Regions from separate parts of the Homo sapiens genome. Here region 1 is linked to region 2. The links come from fine-mapping of genetic effects on gene expression. A gene starts in region 2. The other region holds a variant in brackets. All regions are shown on one strand. Distances are from middle to middle. Region 1 has its middle 26 kb from the start of NANOGP8. Region 2 holds the start of ZNF770 (zinc finger protein 770).

What was found.
Region 1: its variant is fine-mapped to the expression of ZNF770 in whole blood (TOPMed, PIP above 0.99).

The regions. Positions count from the first base shown.
Region 1 is chr15:35,056,661-35,061,052 of GRCh38, forward strand. No RefSeq gene overlaps it. Among named protein-coding and RNA genes, the nearest start is that of NANOGP8, 26 kb to the right of the region's middle. The variant C/A (reference allele first, on the strand shown) is at 2,558.
Region 2 is chr15:34,986,208-34,990,599 of GRCh38, forward strand. It overlaps ZNF770 (zinc finger protein 770), which reads right to left and starts at 2,080. Exons shown (of 3, transcript NM_014106.4): 1 at 1,909-2,080; 2 at 1,350-1,466. It overlaps LOC105370764 (a long non-coding RNA gene), which reads left to right and starts at 2,151. Exons shown (of 5, transcript NR_188212.1): 1 at 2,151-2,277; 2 at 3,478-3,603. RefSeq lists enhancers at 579-638, 719-768, 2,175-2,264.

The sequences.
Region 1 (4,392 bases), 70 kb after region 2:
CCTCTGCCTCTTTTTGTCTTTTCTTCAGTCCACTGGAGCTTAGACTGCCCAGTCTCCTTGAGCATCCCTGAGTAGATGGTGATCAAGTCTGCTTCTCTGCATGGAGTTCCCGTACATCTGTTTTGTTCTGCCCTGCTGCTGGTCTTCGGCAGACAGCAGTGATCATGCAGCAGTTTATCAAGGATGAGACTGAGACAGTGTCTGTGTGTTCTATTATCCTTGGCGGAGGACGATCTCTTTCCCTTGGAGACACGAGTGGAGGCTATTAACCTCAGGGAGTCTGTTGGGGCAGAGACACCTGAAATCAGTCAGGGCTCACTGCAACCTCTGTCTCCTAGGTTCAAGCGATTCTCCTGCCTCAGCCTCCTGAGTAGCTGAGATTACAGGCGCATGCCACTTCACCTGGCTAATTTTTTTGTATTTTTTAGTGGAGATGGGGTTTCACCATGTTGGCCAGTCTGGTCTCCAACTCCTGACCTCAAGTGATCCACCTGCCTCGGCCTCCCAAAGTGCTGGGATTACAGGCATGAGCTACTGCGCCCAGCCTTGTAAATTGCTTTTTTTACTAAAAAATGTATTTAAGTATTCCTCTGTTAACAGGTTGTTACCAATGTTTGGCCACTACAAATCATGCATATACATACTTGTTTCCGATATACTGCATTTATTTGTTTTCTTCTCTGCCAATGAAGAAATCACAAGGGGAAAAAATCATAAGATCGGTGAGATGATTAAATGAGGTAATGCTTATAAAAGCATGTAATACAGCACCTGGTACAGAGTAAATGTTCAATCAAGCCCCTATTATTATCACTTAAATATTACTGGTTCCATAAATTACTTTTTCTTGTCTCAGAAAGCCTTCGCCTTAGGGGCTTCTGACTAGTGGAAATAGAGCCCTATGTCCTCAAGGTCATGGGCAAGGGCAGGTCACGGGCAAGGGCAGGGCATGTCTGTATAAAACGCCTTCCTGACTAGGTGTGGTGGCTCACGTCTGTAATCCCAGCACTTTGGGAGGCCGAGGTGGGCAGATCACCTGAGGTAAGGAGTTCAAGACCAGCCTGGCCAGCATGGTGAAACCCCATCTTTACTAAAAATACAAAAATTAGCTGGGCATGGTGGTAGGTGCCTGTAATCCCAGCTACTCGGGAGGCTGAGGCAGGAGAATTGCTTGAACTTGGGAGGCAGAGGTTGCAGTGAGCCGAGATCGTGCCATTGCACTCCAGCCTGGGCAACAAGAGAGAAACTCCGTCTCAAAAAAAAAAAAAAAAAAAAAGAAAAAAAGCCTTCCTAAAGCAGGGTTCCAAATGAGGATCCTGAAGTTCTTGTGGGCTATAATCCCTTTCAGTTCCCAAATGAAAAGTGAATCTGATGATTTATTCATTTCTGTAGGGGCTAAAATGCCATTTGAAGTTATCATTGAGGCATTAAATTTTCCTCATCTGCAAAGCGTAAGGTTCCAAATACCTAGAGAGGTGAGGCTGTGAGAGATGGGAGGATGAGAGAGGTCGTTCAAAGGCTGCGAAGGAGAATGAGATAGAAGAAGTGGGCCTGCCACTCTTGGAACGTGAGCTTTGTTTGGAGGAACTCCTGTAGAGACTGGAGGGGGAAGTGGCAAGGTAAAGAGCTGCCTCCACTTTTATGTTTCATAATACGTTTTTTAGATGTTTCTTCCCAGCCAGAAATTGTCAATATGATTAAGAGTCAGCTGTCTGACCTCAAAAGAAGGTGGCCAGCTGCCCTTTAAATATGTCTCTGCAGTTGAGGGCATCCAATAAAAGCCAACTTGGTATGAAAAACCAATTTTTTTCTTTGCTGTTTATGTTTTTTTTTCTTAAAAAGCTTTGAACAACATAGCAAAAAATAAGAAAGGAGGGCTGTGCTCCAGATGTGCAAGCTTTCCTAGAAGAAAAAAAGATCTGAAAAGCTTCTTCACCACCTGTCCTGGTGAGGCAAGCAGAGGACTTGACTCCACATGAGAAAGCTAATCAAAGAAAAAACTCTACTTGTCAGAATTTTCTCTCTAGTTTTCATCGTACAGAGGCACATCCTGACAAACTATAGAGTCCCTCCACTGACCAAAAGCGAAAAACAAAAAGACAAAGTAGCTTAAAATAGGGCTGAGTAGGACTGAAAGTTTAAGGAACTATTAAAAACAAAGGAAACACGCTAATTCTACCCAACAAAGAAATAGGAAACACGTCAGAAGACAGAAGGGAAAGAAAGAAAACCTGCTACCCATGTTTAATCTTTGTCTACTCCCAGAAGACTCACAAAATTTAAAACAAGTACAAATGAAAATACAGAACACACTTTAACAAAAACAGATCAGTAGGTGGTTACCATGTGCCTACTTAGAGCAGCCCCTATTTCTCAGGGCCACGAGAGTGATAGCACAGATGAATTAAGCCCACACGCCCAAAGCAAAAATTTCATTTTGGTCTTTAGTCTTATTCTCTTCTCAACTAGAGACTAACAAAAGTAAGTCAAACCACTTCGAGTTTCAGCAGTTTTCCTTCTTATTTCTGTACTAAAGAGTTATGAAAATGGCTCTTGG[C/A]AAATATGAGGAAAAGGAAAAGCAACAAGCCTTATTTGACTGCACTGAGGCTGTCTGTGCAGACTTTTCAGAGGTGGGGTTGTCAGTGCAAGAGACGAACAGCACATAGGGCTCTTAGCCTTGCCACTTTGTTTGAAAGGCTATAGAAACTGACTGGTAGGTGCCAGGCATTGTGATAGTTATTTTATATATATATATATATTTGCATTTAATCCTTCAGTAGCCCAGTGAAGTGGAAATTTGTATTTCTGTTTGTTTTTGTTTGTTTGTTTTTTGAGACGGAGTCTCACTCTGTCCCCCAGGCTGGAGTGCGGTGGCATGATCTTGGCTCACTGCAAGCTCCGCCTCCCAGGTTCACGCCATTCTCCTGCCTTAGCCTCCCGAGTAGCTGGGACTACAGGCGCCCGCCACCACGCCTGGCTAATTTTTTGTATTTTTAGTAGAGATGGTATTTTTTGTATTTTAGTAGTTTCACCTTGTTAGCCAGGATGGTCTCAATCTCCTGACCTCATGATCCGCCCGCCTTGGCCTCCCAAAGTGCTGGGATTACAGGCGTGAGCCACCGCGCCCGGCTTGTATTTCTGTTTTACACAAGAACTCAGAGTTCAAGTATCATGGTCAAAGTCATGTATTCTAAATGGGGGTGGGCCAATATTTGAACAAAGATCAGAGAAGAAGCAATGTATTTGCTGTGCTGTGAGCAGGCATATTTGCTCTGAAATTTGAACTGAGAGGCAGTTCTGAAATGTTCTGCAGACTGGGGCCCAGAATTGGTGCCCTGACAAACCAGAGCCACAGGCATGATGGTATAGTAGCCAAGGAATCAGCTCTCTATGGCAGGAATGAAGCACAGGCAGAGAGAAGGAGAGACCAGGAGCCACTGAGGGACAGGTGTGTGTGCAACATTTAAAGCTACAGATAGGCCAGGTGCAGTGGCTCACGCCTATAATCCCAGCACTCTGGGAGGCCAAGGCAGGCAGATTGCTTGAGCTCAGGAGTCAGAGACCAGCCTAGGCAACATGGCCAAACCCTGTCTCTACAAAAAATACAAAAATTAGCTGGGTGTGGTGGTGTATCCTTGTACATCCAGTTACTTGGGAGGCTGAAGCGGGAGGATTGCTTGAGCCAGGGAGGTGGATGCTGCAGTGAGCCAAGATCACACCACTGCACTCCTGCCTGGGGCACAGAGGGACACCCTGTCTCAAAAAAATTAAAAAATTAAAAAAAAAAAAAAGCTACAGATGATGCCTGGACCCTCTCCCAGGCCCACCGGATGGAAATCACCAGGAACTCAGACCACAGCTGAGAACACTGATCTGGCTTGAGTAGATTCTGTTCCTTGAAATCTTAAAATGACTTTGACCTTCCCCAGACACCTTGTCCTTTCTACTACACCTCATTGCCCTTATCTAAGCATAGAAATGCAGTGATTAATTCAGGAAAAAGGTAACAAAAAGAAGGAGAATACAAAAAGAAGGAATCTGATGGCTAGAAGCGTCCTCTCAGCTCAGCTAATGACCACTTTTGTGGTTATTTTTGTTTAACATTGTCAGAGTTTGCTGAAAGAATGTGGAATCTCATTTCTTGAATATTTGCAAAGAGGACATGTAGCCACCTACCAGAATGATTCCAGTGCCAATGCTTCTGCCTGAAAATCAATGAGTGTGTCTTTCTGTTTTTTTTTTTTTTTTCTCCAGACGGAGTCTTGTTCTGTCACCCAGGTTGGAGTGCAGTGGCATGATCTCGACTCACTGCAACCTCTGCCCCCGGGTTCAAGCGATTCTCCTGCCTCAGCCTCCCGAGTAGCTGAGACTACAGGCACATGTCACCACGCC
Region 2 (4,392 bases):
ATATTTATTTTAAATAAAAATCATCTAATTACAGGCCAAATGGAAAATGCCACATAAATCCACGCAAAATAAAACAATCTGACTGTAAGCCAGTATAGTAGTAAAATATATCATATAACCCAGATATCAATGTTAACCAACAATCAACTCTTGGTGCTATGAATATGCATTTTCAGTAGCTTGAATTAGAGAAATTAGAGGTGAACAAGCTCCAAAGTCTCTAAACATGCCGATACAGAGCAACAGTCATGATAATTAAAATTAAGTCATGAATCCAGTGAACTGCAAAGAACTTGGCAGCAATTAGGTGCCAAGGTAGTCAATCAGGACAATGAGTCAAACCAAAAGTAATCAAGCCTTTATTCACTTACTGTGACAGTGCAAGCAAGTGGTAAAAAGAGGCACTGGCTCCCCAGTGGTCTACTAAATACAAGGACACTGGGTGAGGGTCAGTTGATGCAGTGCATATGAGGTAATCCTCTCACTGAAAGGAGCCCCTAACAAAAATCTCCTGCCTCTTATGGAACTTCAGAATAGGAAAGGGAGGGGAAGGTCTAGGAGTGAAAGAAGCTGGGTCAAAAATGGAGAAAAGTGTCTTAGCCACGGTCCTTCCTAGGAGGGCCTCCAAATGGAGGTACCCAGGCTAGGAAAGAAGTTATGGGATTTGCATATCTAGCAGGAGGGGCAGGGCAAGTCCTTGACTGCAACCCCCTCCAGAAAACTGCAATGCACCGGCCCATATCGAGTATGGTGTGGGAGGACAGCTTGGCCCTTGAGGCCAGTCAGGCAAAGCCTGGTAATTGTCCAATGTCAGGACTGAATGATCACACAGGATTTTGGTATAAAGCCAGATTCAATTCCTTTTGTATGTTTCTTCTTCCCTTTAATAAATGCTTTCGTGGAACACGCCTAAAAGAAAAAAATCACACACCACAACTACCTCTGATTAAAACAGGGATTGGCTACCTACAGCTCCTGTACCAAAAAGGAGCTACGGTTAATCATCCATTGTTAGCACTAAGATTGGATAACTGTTGTCACTTGCCTCCCACCACGTGGAAAAGCACTTACTGGGAGCCCTAGATTGTTAGAACCATTAGTGGCAAGTGGTGATCCTATCTCCTGTTTATGAGAGTCAGGTTAGGGATCCTCACCTCACGCACTCATGGAGCTCCAAATCCCATTTCAACCGATTTTTGTTGATAACATAAAAATAAAAAAGACTGTAATTTTTCTTATCTTAAACTGAAATAAAAGAATAGTAGATCTGCTCAGTGGTTCAATCCAGAATTTATCCTGACAAGAACAAGATACTCTACGTGAAGACTGTAAAAACTGTAAAAACTGACCTCAATAATATCCAATGTTGCCTCAAGGCTGAAAGCCTGTTGATTTTCTTGTCTTGACTAGTACCATTAAAACGATGTGAGGATTTCACGAAAGTAAGCGAACAAGAAATGAAAGACCTAAGAGAAACACACACAACTTTCAGTTGGGGAATAATCTCCGGCGGCTGCTTCTGCCCCACTCGCCCCGGGCCCATTCTCTTGGCCTTGAACCCTCACCTCTCCCTCCCAGTGGACTACACTGGACAAAGGACACTGACACACAGTCCTCGTTCTAAAGGCCCACAACCAATAATAAGCACGTAATGGTCGAGCCGAGTCCAGAAACCACAAAATCCCACGCCAGGAAAGGAAGGGTAAGGGTAAAAACTGCTTTGGCTGCAGCCAGGATGAAAACGCCACATGTGATACAACCCACAGCAACAACAAAAAAAAATCCCTCTACGCCTTCCTCTCAAATTTCTGCTCCGCGTGAGACGCACTCAATAGGTGGGGAAGTGAGAAAGCAAAAGGAGCTCAGGAACTGAGGTTGTGGAGCCCCCGTTCTTGGGTCCCCAGGCACCTTGGCGGTATTGAGGCAGGTCCGACCCTCCCTGGGGGTCGCTCCACTTCTCAGTCGGGTTTCTGAAGTCCTCCTCACGCATCTGGAGCTGGCGAGGGCCCGGGAGGCACGCACCTCAGGCCCAGGTGCCGCGAAGGCAGCGCGCGCACGTCCGCAGGGCCGGCGCGGCAACGGGCTGAGCGCGCAGGCGCGGCGCTCTGGCGCGCCCAGGGACACAGTCCGGCTGGAAACAAGCTCCCCCCAATTTCAGGGCCGTTGTCGCCTCCGGGCGGTCCGCGGGTCCCGAGCGGACTGGGACTCTGGAGACGTGCCCCCAACCCCACCGCCATTCACCCTGTCATTGCAGGGGAGAGAACAGAATAAAGACGGGTACATTTTCCATCTCACCTCTGAACCTCGGTTAGGAAAACGCTGTAGCCCTGACTAGTGGGCTCAAGGGCCGACTGGAAAAGGGCGAGTCAGCGTTCAAAGCCGATTCGGGGCAGCCCTCTCTAACGCAGAGGGCCGAGGATAAGAAGACGACAATGTGTTAGGGGCCCTCCGGGCTAGGACTGTCCTCACCACTTTGTACATTGCCAAAGTAAATATAACGTAGAGGTCAAGCGCAGGCGCTTTGTGGGCAGACATGACTGAGCTCCACTCGCGACTCCTCTAATGGCGTGCCAGCTGCGGACCTCATTAGCCCCGCCTCAATCATTCAGTATGTTTTGGTTGTCTACAGTGTACGAAGCCCTGTTCTCACAATTAGATAAAATGAGTGTGAAGTGCTCAACATAATTCCTAGTGTAGTAGGCCTTCAAAGAACTATTATCATTATTAATTACTCATATAGAATACAACTTTATGAAATGATAGGATCCCATTTTAAGATGAGGAAAATGAGGCTATCAGAGACGTTAAGGAACTTAATGTCACACAGTTAATAAACGATAGAGGTGCGATTTGAACACAGGTTGTCTAATACCAGACCTGCATTTATAACTGCTGCTTCCCAAGTTATAGATATTTCAGCATTTTATGTAGTCACAATTGAAGACCAAATATTTAGTTACAGACTAAGTTGGCATGTTATTACTGAATAAGATGCTAAGGTATCTACTAAAGATTTTAAGTGCAAAAGGCATTAGAGAAGAATTTACTGTGGATTTTTTGCAGGTTCTGATTGTAATTGTATCACCTTGAGAAAGGAGGAAATGAAAGCAGATTATCAGGCATACTTTTTTAACTCTAAGCAACTTTTTGCATTACTTTCTAAGGACCATCAGCAACAAAAATCAATGGTTTCTAATGTTGATATATTTTCCTCTACCAAAAAAATTAAAGCAGCTGAGCCAACAAAAATTCTCTGTTTTGGATGTGTTAGCATGAGGAAATGGCGAATAGGAAATGAGCTTTTGCTTCTCATGTAGGAACCCTGAAGGAGTCAGATTTGGGAGGGGTTGAAGTCTGCTTCCAACAGAAGCAGGGGTGGAGAAGGGAAAGGAAAGACTTCTGGTGTCCTAAATGCTAGTCCCAAAGTGGGGATGCTGTTTGTCCGGATAACCCTTGTAAATCTGCTCCATTCTGCAGCTACTCCTGGGAAACTTAACTCAGCCAAATAATGCAAACAATTGCATCCATCATCAGCCACATCAGCCTTAGGAGATACATCCATATCATGAGAAAACACTACCTGAAATTGGGGACCACTGGAGGGTGAGATTCGTTCTTTATCCATTACCTGCAAAACAAATTGGCCTTTGCATGGAGAGTCTGAATATATATTGAGTGTGAAAGCAGTTAGGACTTGAATAGGCTATTCTCCAAGGCCACATGCCCCATGTCATAACCTCCCCCATTTACCGTGAGAGCTATCTCAGGAGCCTTCTGGAAAAAAAAGAGAAATTAACATGAATAAGAGTAATCAAGGAAGATTTCATTGAATATGTGAAATTTGAACTAGCAGTAGTGGGTAGACTATGAATAAATAAAAAATGTGGGGGCAGGACAGAACATGGTAGGGCAGAGGTGGCAGGGTGAAGAAAAGATAGTATGAGAATGAAAAATAAAGGGGGTGCATGACATACGTTTGAATTAGTATCTTAATGCTGCAGCTTACTAGTTGTGTCCTTAGAAGTTATTTAACCTAGGCTGGGCGCGGTGGCTCACACCTGTAATCCCAGCACTTAGGGAGGCCGAGGCGGGTAGATCATGGGTCAGGAGTTCGAGACCAGCCTGGCCAACATTGTGAAACCCTGTCTCTACTAAAAATACAAAAATTAGCCGGGCGTGGTGGCACGTGCCTGTAGTCCCAGCTACTCAGGAGGCTGAGGTGGGAGGATTGCTCTAGCCCAGGAGTTAAAGGCTGTAGTGAGCCGTGTTCATGCCACTGCACTCCAGCCTGGATGACAGAGCAAGACTCTGTCTTAAATAAATAATAATAAAAATAGAAAAGATGTGCCACTGCACTCTAGCCTGGGCGACAGAGCGAGACTCTGTTTCAAA